3 separate regions of the Homo sapiens genome follow, and regions 2 and 3 are each linked to region 1. Evidence: fine-mapped expression QTL. A gene starts in region 1. Each other region holds a variant in brackets. All regions are shown on one strand. Distances are between the middles of the regions.

Region 1 (5,230 bases):
ATATCTATGAATATACTAAATATACAGAAATATATACCACTTATATACTAAAATATGTGCTACTTATACTAAAACTCACTGAATCGTATACTTTAAATAGGTGGCTTTTATGGCATATGAATCATGCCTCAATAAGGCTACTTAAAAATAACGTCTTGTTTAAAATATCCTCACACATCCGAAGAGATCTTATTCTTTTGGTTGTAAGTATGAAATGATTACAACAACCAAAGCCAGAACTGGCTTTGGTATTTAAACTATTGAAAATGTTCCAGGTTAACATTTAAGACTATGAAAATCTTGAAAGTAGAAAAAATTAAAATGAAGGCATCAAGGAACTTCCGGAGGACATAAAATGCAGTGATTGTTTAAGATGTATTGGGGGCATTAAGTAATTAGATTCATAGGGGTGGAATGTAAGCAAGGAGAGTTAAAGTGCTCATATGAAAAGCCTCAGCCTGGAAGACCCCCTTCTTTACCAGCTTGCAGTGATTCTGAAAGAACAATATTTCTTCATGTGCACTGTTAACCTTATTTTTAAGGAAGATAAAAATACCTCCCCCCTCCCAATATGATTCACTCCAGTAACAAATAGGAAGTCAAGTAAATGATAAAGGGCCAAACAAAAAGAGATTTAAGGAAACACATAAAAAGCTAAACCAGTTCCCAGGAATGGCTACTGGGAAGTTTCAGCAATCAGCATGTGTTACTGCTTTTTACAGGCAGAGCATAAGATGATATGATCTGTGCATAGCTCACAATTCCACTACTGAGACATTTCAACCTGTGTCGTTGTCAGTCCAAATAAAGTCCGTTTCTGTGTTTGCCTTGTGCAATATGCCAGTTAATCTATCCTAGCTCATTGCAGAGCTCCTGGTATGTGTGGTCTGGGGAGTCCATACCTTCCCTGACTTGAAGAACCACCAACGCCAGCGATAAGGAAATGTCCGGGTGCATTAGGAATATTTTTGATCCTCAATAAATCTCTGCTTCTTCCTTGACCATTGCAAACAGTCCGGTTTGCCATCTAGCTGATTCTCGGTACCTCATACAGCACTGTGCTCCAGTTTCAAAGCAAAAATAGGGCTAATATATGGTGGTGGGTGAGGGGCGGGGGTGAGGGGTGCAAGAAGAAAACAAGCAAAGGTTGAACTGGCTTTTCCTACAGAGCCTCAGATTTCAAAATGACTGCCGTAGAAGCTAAAATGACCCAGATTTGGGGGACAAGGGGGGAAGAGGGTCGATATTCATTCCCCTGCGGGGTAGCTGTAGCTTGATTATGGGCGTAAGGAACTAGGGAAGACGGGGTCACCGACATGAAAAGAGAAATAACAGGGAATGGTCTTTAAGTACCACGCACCTCTCTCAGTGAATCACTGCAGTGTCAGCCCTGCACTGATTCCATGATTTGCCAAACAGGATGAGGTAAGGCACAAGCCTGGAGCCCCCTCCTCCTCCTCCTCCTCCCCCTCCTCCTCCTCCCCCCTCCCCCGCGCAGAAAGGCGCATCCCTCCGCGAGGTGCACCACGCAGCCCCCCGCGGCCCTGGCTGAGGGGTGACGTCACCCTTCTGCATTGAGCTTCAAGGACCGGCGGCAGCACTGGATAGATGGGGAGTAGAGTTGGGGCGCTATCTCTATCACCAAGTGGAGGGGACCCTCTGCCAGGGCGCTGCGGATTGTGCTCATGCAGTGACAGAACCACCAGATAGGGAGTGTAAGGATGCAGGGAGGTGGGAAAGGAATCCAAAGACTCATCTCTTGGGTCACCAAGAAACCTCAAAGATGCCCCCGGCTTATGTAAGACCCTCTCCCTTTCGTGCGCCTCCACGCGGTGACAACGCCTGCTCCCCATCGTGCGCTTGGGAGACTTCGGTCGCCCTTGCCCAGCCAGGCAGGCACGGTGCTTCTGGTGCCTCCCTCCCGCAGCCCCGTGGGGTCAGGAATAACTGGGAATCTGAGATTAAACCCCACGCTCCCGTGTCCTCTCCTAGCCCGCCACAGGTTAGCTCCAAGAGGCGCCGCGAACCGGCTGGTAGGGGAAGGGAGAGAAAGGTGTACAGCGAGGAAAACAGACGAATAAACCCGCAACTTTCCCCAGGAGCTGACCCTATCCCGGGAGATTATAAAAGAAACTAATGCATTAACATTTTTTTTTTGGAAGGTCGACAACCTGCAGTCACCGACACTCCGCAGCCCCTTGCAGCCTGCGCGGAGCGAGGTCTAGGGTTCCAGCAGCCCCGACCCGCACCCTGCCATCCTGCAGCCCCGACCCAGCACCCCGCGCCTGTCTCCTTAAAGAGGGGTCCCAGATTTGATTTTTGGTTTGGGTTTTCCTCCCCACTTCTTTTCTCAGAGCATCATCATACGGACCGATGGACAGCGACTCGGCCACCGGCCCGGCGTGGGCACTTACCCAGAAGACGAAGGAGTAGATGATGAGGAGGGTTTTGAGACAGGTTATCACAGGTTTGGTCTCCATTCTCCTCGATGCCATACTACAGAGCTCCGGCGGCGGCGGCGGCGGCGGCAGGCGGCGGGCGGGCGCGCGGGAGGGGGAAGAGGCGGGGCGGGGCGGGGCGGCGCGGGGCGGGGGCGCGTGCCGCGAGAGGCCTCGTGAGCGCGCAGGCGAGGCCGTGCGCGTGCGTGAGCGCGCACCGCGCGGGGCTCCTACTGAAAAAGCCGGGCCGGGCAGTGACTGCGCATGCGGGAAACGCCGCCCGCGTTCGCAATACTGCGCAGGCTTAGACCCCCAGCGGAGGAGGGAGGCGAGGCCAGGCGAGGCCAGGCGAGGCGACACGGGGCGCGGCAGGACAGTGGGGAGGGAATGGGAGAATTTAGAGGCCGGGTCAGAGGTCACGGGAACCTCTCCCAGTCCGCCCTGGCATTTAGATTTCTGCTTTGTACACAGTTGGGCGTTACATTTGCAGGTATGCCTGCACCTGGCTATGGGAAGTTTATGGGTGCCCCGCTGCCCATCAGTCACGTTTCTGCATTTTGACACCCCCCAGGGCCTTCTCACATGGAAATGGCCCCGTAGTCATGTCCTTGGCAACCAGCAGGCCTTGTTTGTGCCAGGAACAGACAGGTGGCCAGAGATACAGCTGGAGGGATGGGCAGGAACGCCGGAGCTCAGACAGACCCCAAATCCTCGCCACCACAGGTATCTGCAGGCTCCTCCATTTTTCAGATTTGTCTTACATTTTGAAATAATAAAACGAAATGACAAGAAAGGTCTGTATGAGGCGTCATTCTTGCTGCGCATACAATGTTTAACAGAATACAGAAAAATGTTTAATATGCCTGAGAATCATTTGCAGCGCGCTAACAAGTACAGTCCACCTCCCTCCTGTAAAGGAAAGCTGCATTGAGGTCAAAAAATAATGTTCACAACCAATTTGGAGTTCCTCAAAAAGTTGAACAGAGTTTGCATATGATCTAGCAACTCCATTCCTGGGTATTTACCCAAGAGAAATGAAAATATATGCCCACACAAAACCATATACATGAATGTTTATAGCGGCATTATTCACAATAGCCAAAAATTGGAAACAACTCAAATATCCGTCAGCTGATGAGTGGATGACCAAAATTCGGTGCCTCCATACAACGGAAAATTATTCGGCCACAAAAAAGAATGAAGTACTACTGGTAAATGCTGCAACGTGGATGAACCTTGAAAATATGCTAAGCGAAAGACGCCAGACACAAAAGACCACATATTGAATGATTCATGTATAGGAAATATCCAAAATAGACAAATCCATAGAGACAAAAGAGATTAGTGGTTGCAGCGAGTGGGAGGCAGGAATGAGGTGACTTTTAATGGGTAAGCGGCTTCTTTTTAGAGTAATGAGAATGTTCTAGAATTACATAGTGATGATGGTTGCACAATACTGTGAATTACTAAAAACCACTGAGTTGTATACTTTAAGAGGATGACTTTTATGATATATTAATTATATCACAATAAAAACGTACATTCCACCCAGATATGGTTTGTAGAGGAACACACAGATTCAGTGGGAGATTTAGCTTGATTGCTAAGAGACTAGTCAAAAACAGCAACACTATCACAGGTTAACTCAATCGTGGATGATGATGTTAAGGATACATATTTGTGAAAGAGTGAAAAACAGAGTCAATAAGGCTTGGGAAAAGCCTGCTAAGGTCAGTTGTTACAGGAGTAATTATTACCTCTATCCAGTTATATGTGGTCTCAGGTCAATAAGGTAACTGTATGAACAGGACAAAAATATGAGGAAGAGGAGAACCTGTTTAAGGAAATTGTCAACTATAACAAAAAGGTATGTGGGCATACAAGGGTGGAATATAGGTGCAGGTGAAAGAAGGGACAGGTTGAGCAAGGTGTCTGTTATAAAGGGGTCTTGGCACACTGATTCTCGATGCTGGGTGCTCATTTGCATCACCTGGTGTTTTAAAACAATTATGAATGCCTGTGCCCAATCCCAGCTATTTGGAGTCATTTGGTGTGGGGTGAAAGCTCCGCGTTTTAGAAGCTCTTCAGGTGGTCTGAATATTAAGCAAGAGTTGAGGGGCATTGCCCCATACTGCAATGAACTTAAACCCAACTTCAGAGAGGAGCTTTCTCTTTCATTCTTACAGACTCCAGGCTGATTCCAACTGCTGCAGCAGCAGGGAAAGGATACTGAAGACTTCAAGCCCAGTGGGTATCCTTAGCATCAAAAGATCTTGGCCATGTATAATTATTTTGTAAAGAGGTCAGAAATCTCAATGTTCAGCCCAACAGTGACACTGCTAAGCATCATAGATAATTTGGTGAGTTAATATATGACATTCACAGAAGACACCCATCAGTTTAAGCTAACTCACCGTCTCACAGTTTGGAGCATTTTTGGAATATCTCTTAGGTCCAGATTCTTGAAAACTTGGACTGTTCTAGCAAAAATAAACCATTTAAATATAAAGATAAATATGAATATTCAGTAATGTAATTAGTAGATAAATTAACATAGCTTGTAGCTAGATCCTTGCTCTCCAATTGTGGCCCATGACATATATATAGGGTGACAAGCCATCCCAGTTTGCCCAGGACTGAGGGGTTTCCCTGCATTCAGGATTTTCATTGCTAAAACCAGGAAGGCCTTGCGCAAACCAGAACATATTAGTCACACTAACCCTGAGCTGGCAGCATTGACATCCACTGGAAGAGCTGTTTGAACATGCAGAACCTCAAGCCCCACTCCAAGC
Region 2 (5,230 bases), 81 kb after region 1:
GTTTCCCTAGAGAAAGTTTTTCCCATTTGCTGGTTGTTGGCAGTAAGAGATGTTCAGAAGCAGTTAACAATTGTCTTCAGATTTGGATTGAAAACTCGTATCTCTGTACTTAAAATATGTACTTAATTTTCAAATTAGCACACAAATATAGACACATAAATCTGAATGAGAAAAAAAATCACCTAATCCTATGAGACCAATTGAAAGGCTGTAATTTGAGGTAAAATGTTTGTGAAGAAGGATGAGAAAATGTATTTCCAAATAATACATAATATTTGTCAAACCATTACTTATTATGTTTTTTAATGTCAAGAATGGGGCTGTAGAAGAAAGCTTTATTAAAGTCTCCCAAGTAGGTTAAACTGTTCTTTGGTCATCAAATAATTCTTGGAAAACACTTACTTGCTAATGACTTAAAGTTCTCAGCAAATTTATTTGTGGAAGATGGGAATTTGATGACATTAAATTTCAAGAGATTAATTTGTAAACAAGTCCCACAGTGATTTCCTCTATGGATAAACATTGTGTGTGTGTGTGTGTGTGTGTGTGTGTGTACTTGCACAGAGAATTATAATAATTCTTGTATGACCAAGTTCCTTATACCAGCCTTCAAGACTCTTCTTAGTCTACCCTGTATAATTTATTAATACCTTTTAAACTGAATTTTCTATTACTTTCCCATTGTTGAAGTTTTGGGGGTGCCAATTGCTCATCTTTCCTTGCATCCAAGAAGCCAGATTGGAATCAAAATAGCTTTGCTGATGGTAAAGCCAAATTGGAGAATGTGTGAGGGCTTCCTACTGCCACCCCCTGAATTAAACAAACCTCATGGAGACTCAGAGGAATGCTGGCAGCCCAAAGGAAGTGGGGAGGGCTTGGCAGGCCCATCGCCTTGTCATTGCAGTGCCGCTGTGCCCTGGCTAATATGCACCAATAGTCACTGGGCTCTGAGAGTTCTTCACATTCACCCTGCTACTTCTCATGGATTAGAAGTGTGATAAAGGTCTCCTGCAAATGACTGCAAGAGCTCTCTGCCATAGCCAAACTGCTCAGTTTGCTGGTCCCAGGACGTGTAAAGCTCCTTTGGTTCCCCTCACCTGGAATGCTCTTCATAGCCCACTTCATTAAATCAAACCCAGCCTGCTTTTCAGCCTAGTTCCAATCTGCCTTCTGTGAAATTTTCCCTGACCAACTCAACCCAGTCATCTGGCATGGGTTCACCTTGTTTGTTTGTTTGTTTTGTTCTCCAAATATTTATTGAGGTCCTACTATATACAAGACAATGTACTTGAAATAATGCTGTTAACAAGACAAAGAAGCTCCTTAACCTAAGGAACATGCAGTCTAGTGTTAAAGGCAAATACTAACCAGATAATTCCACCAATAAGCTATCATGGACTATGGTGAATGCTGTGAAAGAAAAGTTATGGGTAGCCATGAGAGGATCACATCTGGGGGCCTGATATGGTCTCAAGAGAGTAGGTGAGGTCTCCATGGAAGAGACTTTGGGTTACATTCTGAAGGATGAATAAGAGTTATGTACACAAGGGATGGGGGTGGAGGAAGGATGGTGAGGAGCTGTCCAAGCAGAAGTAGCAGCATGTGCAAAGACCCCCAGGTAAGAGAGGGCACAGTGCATCTGAGGACCTGAAAGAAGACCAGAGTGGCTGACAGCAGAGAGCAAACAGGAGAGGGGCTCGAGATGAGATGGGAGAAGGTGTAGGTAAGGACTTTGGCTTTTATCCTAAGAGAAGTAGTGAGCTATTGGAGGTTTCTGAGCAGGGGACTGATATGATAAGATTTGTATTTTATAATCACTCAGAGTGCTCTGGGGAGAATGAACTAGAGAGGGCCAGAGAGAAAGTGGAAAGACTAACATGGAAGACAAAAGTATAGGGAGAGGATATAGAGAATGGGAGCATGTAACCCTATGTTGGTCGAGAGGTAGTACGGTAGAGCGTAAAAACAGTGGCTCTGAAACCAAACTGCCCAGCTTTGTGCCCTGGTTTTGCCATGTACTGTCTGACCTTCAGCAGATTACCTAAGTGTTCTCAGTTTCCTGATCTCCAAAACGGGGCTAATACCTGTCTACTTCTTAGGTTATGTGAGGATTAAATGGTGAATACATATTTAAAAACTTAGAACAATGTCCAAGACACAGTAACTTCTTATTAAACGTTGTGGCTACTCTGTTAAACATAAATTATGCCTAGAACCACAGAATGGTTTTTCTCACTAACCAAAACAAAAAGAAAACATTCTTCTGCTTGATGATGGGCATTCAAACTGTTTTATTTATTTATTCGTTAACTTTTTAATTTTTTAGAGATGGCGTCTCACCATGTTGCCCAGGCTACATGCAAACTCCTGGGCTCAAGCGATCCTCCTGCCTCAGCCTCCAAAAGCAGCTGGGACTACAGGAATGTGCCACCATACCTGTGCTCAAACTTTTTCAATAACAGTGATTCTGCAAGAGAATCCACAAAATGGACAAGAATGGCCTTGAAGGAAATACAGATCTCAGAAGGGTATTTTTAACAGAAATGCCCTTGAAGGAAGCACATGTCATTCCTGGGAAATTTATGGTTGGCTTCACCACCAGCCTGCTTTATTCATTGTGGCTCCCCCTCTTTGCCCCGCCTAAGCCATTGCTATGCCTGGTTTCAAGCACGGACTCAGTCAACACTGGGTTCTGAAGATTTTACTGGGGACGAGGAAGTCCATGCATCAACCATACGCTTCATTCCAGGAATGGCCCCCTGATATTTCATGTCTTGAGGCTAGTCAGGTCACTAAAAGGTAAGAACAATGCCTATAAACCAATAACCCAGCCTGATGTTCTGGAATTAAGTCACAATGAGGGACACTTGGACTACTATGTGCCGAACACCTGTTCTAAGCCATTCTCAACATTCCTGATTATAAATGCAACCTCCTAGTGATTCTGGTTTTACATCTATGGGACTGTGTGATCACAAGAGCAAAAAAGCTCTCATGTATCTGAAGACCAGGGTGGCCTATAAACCTAGA[A/G]CTAGCTCAGGACAAAGGAGAGATCTCACCAGCCCAAAGAAAGCACCAGAAGGTCAAATAGCTGGGAAAACCTGGGCAGGGGAGGCCCTCTCCAGAAAAAGTAGGCTGCTGGACCACACAGCCACAGAGACACAATGAGAAAACAGACAAGCGCCCTACTCAAGATCACAAGGACAACAGTTTTTCACTGAGAACTGGGCTAGGAATAGGAAAATTGGCAATAGGCCAGTTGTCCCTAGAATAAATCAGGTAAATTCTGCTCCAGAGAGGGCAGAGCTGGTGGTGCTGTTCTTCAGGGCAGCACAGCCTCTTTCTGCCACACCTTACTCAGCCAGGGCCAAGTTTGTAGACTGCAGCTGCTGGGTCTCCCGGCAGATGTTCTGCTCCACTGTGCCACACTCAGCTACGAACGTCTGACTTTTTTTTTTTTTTTTTTTACCAAACCTTTCTTTTTTGATCTATTGTCTTTGAAATTTTCTGGCAGGATCAGTGTGTCGATCTCTTCCAAGATCTTCATAAACTGTTTGGTTGTGGCTTTTCCTCTCCTACCAAGTTTGCAGAGAGCTTCAGCTGGCAAATCCTTGGCCAGAAAACCTTGCTGGAGTCCAGTAAGCTGTTTATTCAACTCTTAAAGTTCGTCAGCTTTCTTCTCCACAGGCTTCACCAACTCTTTCAATTTCTCCAGTTCAACCTCTTCCTCTGGACTGTTCTTTTTCCCAATTAACATGACTTGGCAACCATTTTGTATTCCACATGCTGACAAAGGTATCTCCATTTCCTTCAGAGATGTTCCCTTAAATATGAGTTTCTGAAAAGACAGTGGAACCCCTGTGGCCTCTCCAACAACCTGGGTCAGGTCTTGGGCAATTGGTTCACCGCTGGACCTGCTGCAGGGTAACGTGAAGGTCATGCTTCTCATTGCTGTGAGTGACGGTCATGCTGAGCTTGGCTGCCACCATTTCCTCCTTGGTCACCTTCTCGCTCCAGGCTGAGCAGGGGTGGATTTTTTTCTTCACCCGCGGTGAGCTTGGCCAGGGGGTCCAGGGTCTCTGACTGGTGAGGCTCCTGGCCTAGCCAGGAGCCCATCCACTTCCAGTCTGGATTCATCTTCTTCTCTTAGTTCTTTTATGACTCCCACTAGACTATAGGCAAATGGAAGCTGGAAGGCAGGTAGCACAGTGGTTGAGCAATGGGCTCTGGGCCAGACTACTGTGGTTAAATCCTGCCTCCATTCTAACTCACCTTGGCCCAGTCCCTTCACCTTTCTCAGCCCCAGCTTATTCATCTGAAAAACTGGACATATATGCTCATAATCATAACACTACCCAACTCATAGATCGTAGTGATGATTAAATGAGATAAACCATGAAAAGCCCTTAAGCGATGGCCCAGCATATGCTAAATGCACAATAGATGTTAGCTACTTTTATCAACTGTGTCCTAGCTGTGCTAGTAACATCTCCAGTTTGCTTCCCAGTTTCAGTAAAACAGGCAACTTTAGATTCTAGAATCTCCTTTAATGAGCATTCCTCCCTCTAAATAGCTCCTATAGGAATAGGAAGTAAAGTGTAGGAATTTGCTCATTTTTTGATGTGATGTTCAGTGAGTAGGAGGGGAGAAAAAGAAAATGAAGGAGGACCACTCTCTCCTCAACCAAACAAGTAGAGTCATCTTATTTAGGCCCTGGGATTGTTTTAATCACTATACTGCTAAAAAGCAGCCATGGCAGCATTTTAACCTCTTTCTCAGGAAGGACAAGCTGCACAAAGGGGTCGTTTCAGAAGTAAAACTAATTAACTACCGGCTGCTAGTCTGCATAGTTTCCAATTCTTGGAAGTCTTCTCCACCCACTCTTCGCCCACACATCCTCCTCCTTCCACTTTGTGGTAGCCTTGGATATACCAGAGTGAGGGAGCAGGGACTGAATTGGCACAATCAGAATTCTAGGCATCACTGAGGCCTTGAACTCTTTTGCACTAGGGCCTGTTTAAAGCTCTTGCTCTTCAGGTACCATTTAGAGGACTCTTCCTCTCTGGAAAGAAGCACAGTCTTACAGGTTGAGTTACAAGTGCTACTTATTTAGAAAAGGGAAATATCTTTATTACACTCATGTAGTGTTATTTATCTCTGTAAGCCGTTTAGCCACCCTGATGAATAATTTATTCATTGCAATAATAATAAAGCAGGTACTAATCCCTGG
Region 3 (5,230 bases), 72 kb after region 1:
TAGGTCCCCATAGGGGTAACTTGCTGTTACCCCCTCACTCTCTCATTTTATTATTATTTTGTTTATCCCTTCACTCTCTCATTTACCCTCTTCCCTACTAGTGCTTCCAGGGATCACCTTCTAAATAAACTAGTTGCACTCAAATCCTTGTCTCAGGGTCTGTTTTTGACGAAACCTACACTAAGACACCAACATATACAGGGTTTCTCAACCTCAGCACTATTGACATTCATTTGGGGCTGGAGATGTACAAAATGACAAATACACATAAACCATTTTACTGTTTGTGTAACATCAGTTTGGGTTGCGAGGGATATTTTGACTTCTAAGTACTTGTGTGAAGCTATTTACATTTGTACATATACAGATGTATTTGTTTGTCTGATGCGGGGGAGAGACAGTGCACAGAACAGTGTCTCCCCTTAAATACTGATTTTTAAAAAACTGATGTAGAGGCCAAAAATGCTTCTCTACACAGTAGATACCAGTTGTGCCCTCTCCCCAGCTGTGACAACCAAAAATATCTTCAGATATTGCCAAATGTCTTCCAGGGGACAAAATCAGCCCCAGTTGAGAAGTGCTGCTTGCTTGAGGTACCTGTGGGAAGCACAGGGAAGGTAGGATTTGGGGAAGCAAACCTGTTAGGGTGGGCCATGGGCAAGCTTCTCAGTGATTTTAGTGGAGGGCACAGGTGGGGTGAGGAGGAGACTGAGTGTGTGTGTTTTGGGAGAAGAAAATGAAACAACTCTTATTTCATAACTGCCTGGTGCAAGGTGGTCCCTTGTCTAAAGCAGAACAGCTCAGAACTAAACTCAGTACCCCTTACAGTCTCTTTTAGAAAAATGACAAATACACAGAAACCATTTTACTGTTTGTGTAAAATCAGTTTTCAGTTTTCAGGTGAGTTCAGTTTGGATGACAGGTCCTTAAGCAGCTATTTCACGGCCTGTCAGTTTTTCGGTTGCCAGGGATATTTTGACTTTTAAGTAGTTGTGTGAAGCTATTTAAAAAAATCAATATGTGGTTCCAATATGGGGAATGCTGTCAAACGGAGTAGAGGGTCAGAAAAAAGATGCAATGCTTTCTTAGCTAGAGCTTTGGACCTGATTTGGCTGGTATGTTTACAAATGAGGACCCCTGATGAGAGTGACGGAGTTTCAGGGATGGTAAAGGAGACTACAGATGTAGGTTCCAAAACCGCTGTATTCCCTGTAAATGGAAGTAGCAAGGAAGAATAAATATAGGTTAATACCTATAAGACAGTCTTCATCTTATCTATTAGATTCCTGGTTAAAAAAAAAAAGGTTCTGATTGGGGTTCCTCATTACCACTGAATTCTGATACCTTCCAAGGTCAAGCAGGGTAGCAAGCTGGTGCTGGATACTGTACACGCCCTACCCAAATTCCCTTCTCCCTGTTTGATATGCTCAGCACCCAATTTCAGGGTGCTTTTCTGCTAGTTACTAGCACCTGTGACCTTCTTTGGCGGCTTTCTCTTGGACTAATGGAGTTGCTTCACTTGTACATACCTCCCATGTACCCTGGGAGTTTTTTATTACCCTGGGGAGGCCCACGACCATTGGGCAAGAATATAAAAGCCCAGTTCCCTTGTCTCATGTTGAAATAAACTCTAGGTGTGATTTGCACCCCAGAGCTCCACCTTGAGATCATGACTAAGCTGTGATATTTCCTGACATTGAAGCTTTGTTTATTGGCTTCTTTCTCTGTCCTGCTTTCCCCACTTTGTTTTGGTCTCCCTGTGGGAGCACCTTCCCCATAAATCACTTGCACAGGAATCCTCATATCAGGGACTACTTCTGGGGAATCTGATCAAAGATTCTCAAGGCATCCCAAGGTTTATATTTGAGTGAAAGGGAAGGTGAATTTTACCACTCACGTGTAATGTTTCAGAATCTTACCCTATCCTACAAAATAGGCACTCATTCTTTTTTTTTTTTTTTTTTCTGTAATGGATAATTATCTTGGTCTGGAGAACTGAGAAAACATACTTCTGCCACCTTTGCACTGCTCCTCCTGCTTCCACAACGATCAATGCCTCGGGAGGCATTGTTGATGCTTGCTCAGCCAAGGGAAGTAAGAGGA[G/A]CTGCCTTTGCTTGTGTTCTAAATGCCTTGATCTTGAACACTCAAAGCTGTACCTATGTGCTTTCGTGCTTGAAAGGGTGTAGCCACCCACAGAGGGTGATTCAGCAAAAGAGGTCTAGCAGTGAGAAAACTTGGATCAAAAACATATTGGGATCTGCTTCTGATACTTACTGGGGTTTGAGAGGATCTCTGAAATTTTATTCCAAAACTGATCGATCATATAGCACCATTTTTTGAGTTCTTTCTACTTGTTTGGCAGCATTTTCTTGTGCATTTTATCACTTAACCTTTGTAGCATACTTGTGAGATATTAACATCTCCATTTTATAAGCAAGAAAGCTGAGGCTAATAGAAGTTATATTACCTGCCTAAGTTCACACTCACAGTGACGAAGCTGGGTTTTGAGCCTACCTTGGTCTGATTCTAACGGCTGTGTGCTTAACTACCTCCAGAGTATGGCTCTGATATTGGCTCTTTTTTTTTTCTAAAGTAATGACGGAAAGATTTGTCAACATTTGCACAAGGCAGAAAACTATCTCATCTGGAAAGGTTTATATAGACATTATTCTCTTCCAAGAGGAATAAGTAAATGTATAGGAAATTGAAATATATTAAATGACCCTGACATGCTGCAATGCAGGTAATATTTTATATGGTGAAGTTTTCTCTAAGCTTAGCATTTCCTTATTATAAGGTCAATATGATGATTAATTGTTTATGTACAAGGTAGAAAACAATCATTTTCTTTGCAGTCATTTGGAGAGCATTGCATCTGGTTTAATTTATCTCTTATTTAGTTACCTGCTAGGGTTGTTCTTGGGTTTGAATTTTTGTTTTTCCTCCTCCTCTACACTGCCAGCCTCTTTTCTGCCCTAGAACCAAGGCCAGGAAGACTGCAGAACTATGCACTCATGTTTTATCCAGTTAATTCCCCCCAAGATTGAAAAATGTGACTATTTCTGAATATTAACAGTTTTTGCAAATTTCAAATGCAATATGAGAATACTTTTGGACTACAACCATCCATGAAATTAAAAATGACAATATATCCTGTATTTAGATAAAGGATATGTGTTCATATTTTACCTTAAGCAGTAAAGGAAGACTCCAGGCTTCTTTTTGAAATTTTAAGATGTCAGTTTTCAGCAACAGAGAAAATACAAATTGAAAGCTGCTGAAAAAAATGAATTTTTATTTTTATTTAGTCCGAAGTCCAAAGTTCAAAGCAAAACTCTCTTCTCTGGGGTTCAAATCTTGTTTACCCTGAATAGAATATGCCTTCTTGTTTGTTAGAAAACATACAAAAGTGTTCTAATTGTGAAACAGCACCAGGAAAGTGGTATTTAGGAAAATAAAATACTAAGCATGGACTCACAAAGCCGGAGGATACCCTGTGAGAACATCTTCCAACAGGAAATGGCCAACTCATTCAACTTATATGGATTATTTTCTATTTTGGTAGGATTTATAAATCTGTATTTTTTGTCTTTTGCACTCATTCACATGATGTTTCAGTTAATGGAGCAAGGTCCTGAACCCTAAGAAGCCACCAGTACCTAACAAAACACCTGGTACATATGCCATTCAATAGAACTTTCTAGAAGAAATAATTAGGTCAATGAATAAAAAATATAAAGTGATGAATAGAAAATTTATGATAGGGTTCTTACTGGTATGATTAAGTAATAAAATGGAAACAAATCATGGTCAAGTTCAATGTTTTACAAACTCTATTCATAGTATAGGTTTTCTTTTCCTTCTCAATGGGTAAGGTGACCATGTAATATATATTCCAAACAAGGACCCTTTTGAGAGGGAAAGGGGTGCTATTAATCATTATACCAAGACAACAGGACCACTTTGGACAAACTGTAACTAATGGTCACTCCCAATGAGGGATTAGGAGCAGGAAAAAAATATGTACATAAGCCTCTAAATTTAAAAACAAGGGAGTTTTAACTCACAAATGAAGATTTAGAGGGATTTCACTATGAGTACTTTTGATGTTCTTACCTCATCTTAGAATTATGGTAAAAAATGAGCCAAATGACAAATAAAGACTCCTTTCTAACAATTAGGAAAGAAAGAGGAATTAAATTGTTATCAAAAGCTACAAGGAGAACTATAAAACACCGGTAAAAGAAATCATAGAAGTCAAACACAAAAAATAGAAAAACACGTGCTCATGGAATGGAAAAATCCATACTGTTAAAATGACCATACTACTCAAAGCAATATACAGATTTAATGTATCCCCTATCAAATTATCAGTGTCATTTTTCAAAGAATTAGAAAAAAGCAATCCTAAAATTTACATGGAACCAAAAAAAAAAAAGAGCCCAAACAGCCAAAGCAGTCAAGCAAAAAGAACAAAGCTATAGGTATCATATTACCTGACTTCTAATTATACTACAAGACTATAGTAACCAAAACAGCATGATACTGGTACAAAAATAGACACACAGATCAATGAAACAGAATTGAGAACCCAGAAATAAAGCCACATACCTACAATCAACTGATCTTTGCCAGGTCGACAAAAATATACACTAGGGAAAGGACACTATATTCAATACATGGTGCTGGAAAAATTGGATAGCCATATGTAGAAGAATGAAACTGGACCCATATCTCTCACCATATACAAAAATTAACTCAAGATGGATTAAACACTTAGATGTAAGACCTGAAACTATAAAAATCCTGCAAGAAAATCTAGGAAAAACTCTTCTGGATATTGCCCAAGTCGAAGAATTTATGACTAAGACCTCAAAAGCAAATGCAGCAAAAACAAAAATAGAAAAATGGAATTTAATTAAACTAAAATGCTTCTGCACAGCAAAAAATAATCAATGGAGTAAACAGGCAACCTGCAGAATGAGAGAAATATATTTGTGAACTATGCTTCCAACAAAGGACTAATACCCAGAATGTACATGGAACTCCAAAAATTCAAAAAGAAAAGAACCAAATAACCCCATTAAAAGTGGGCAAATAATATGAACAGATATTTCTCAATAAAAAACATACAAGCAGCCAACAAATATATGAAAATGCTCAACATCACTTATCATCAGAGCAATGCAAATTTAAACCACGTTGAGATGCCCTCGCACACCAGTCAGAA

Direction of the effects. Alleles are on the strand shown, and positions count from the first base shown. SD is a standard deviation of normalised expression in the study named. Not every link is listed here.
For the expression in thyroid of the gene that starts at base 2,500 in region 1, G is the low allele of the variant in region 2 and A is the other (small effect, 0.37 SD a copy in GTEx).

The links. PIP is the estimated chance that this variant, and not a neighbour inherited with it, causes the effect.
Region 2: its variant is the best candidate, but not a certain one, in a credible set for the expression of TSPAN7 in thyroid (GTEx, PIP 0.63).
Region 3: its variant is the best candidate, but not a certain one, in a credible set for the expression of TSPAN7 in thyroid (GTEx, PIP 0.81).

What each region holds. Positions count from the first base shown.
Region 1 is chrX:38,558,812-38,564,041 of GRCh38, reverse strand. TSPAN7 (tetraspanin 7) reads right to left here and starts at 2,500. Exons shown (of 8, transcript NM_004615.4): 1 at 2,415-2,500. The coding sequence starts at 2,495. RefSeq lists an enhancer at 1,899-2,400.
Region 2 is chrX:38,478,037-38,483,266 of GRCh38, reverse strand. It overlaps the pseudogene BAG1P1. Among named protein-coding and RNA genes, the nearest start is that of TSPAN7, 81 kb to the left of the region's middle. The variant A/G (reference allele first, on the strand shown) is at 3,031.
Region 3 is chrX:38,486,426-38,491,655 of GRCh38, reverse strand. No RefSeq gene overlaps it. Among named protein-coding and RNA genes, the nearest start is that of TSPAN7, 73 kb to the left of the region's middle. The variant G/A (reference allele first, on the strand shown) is at 2,104.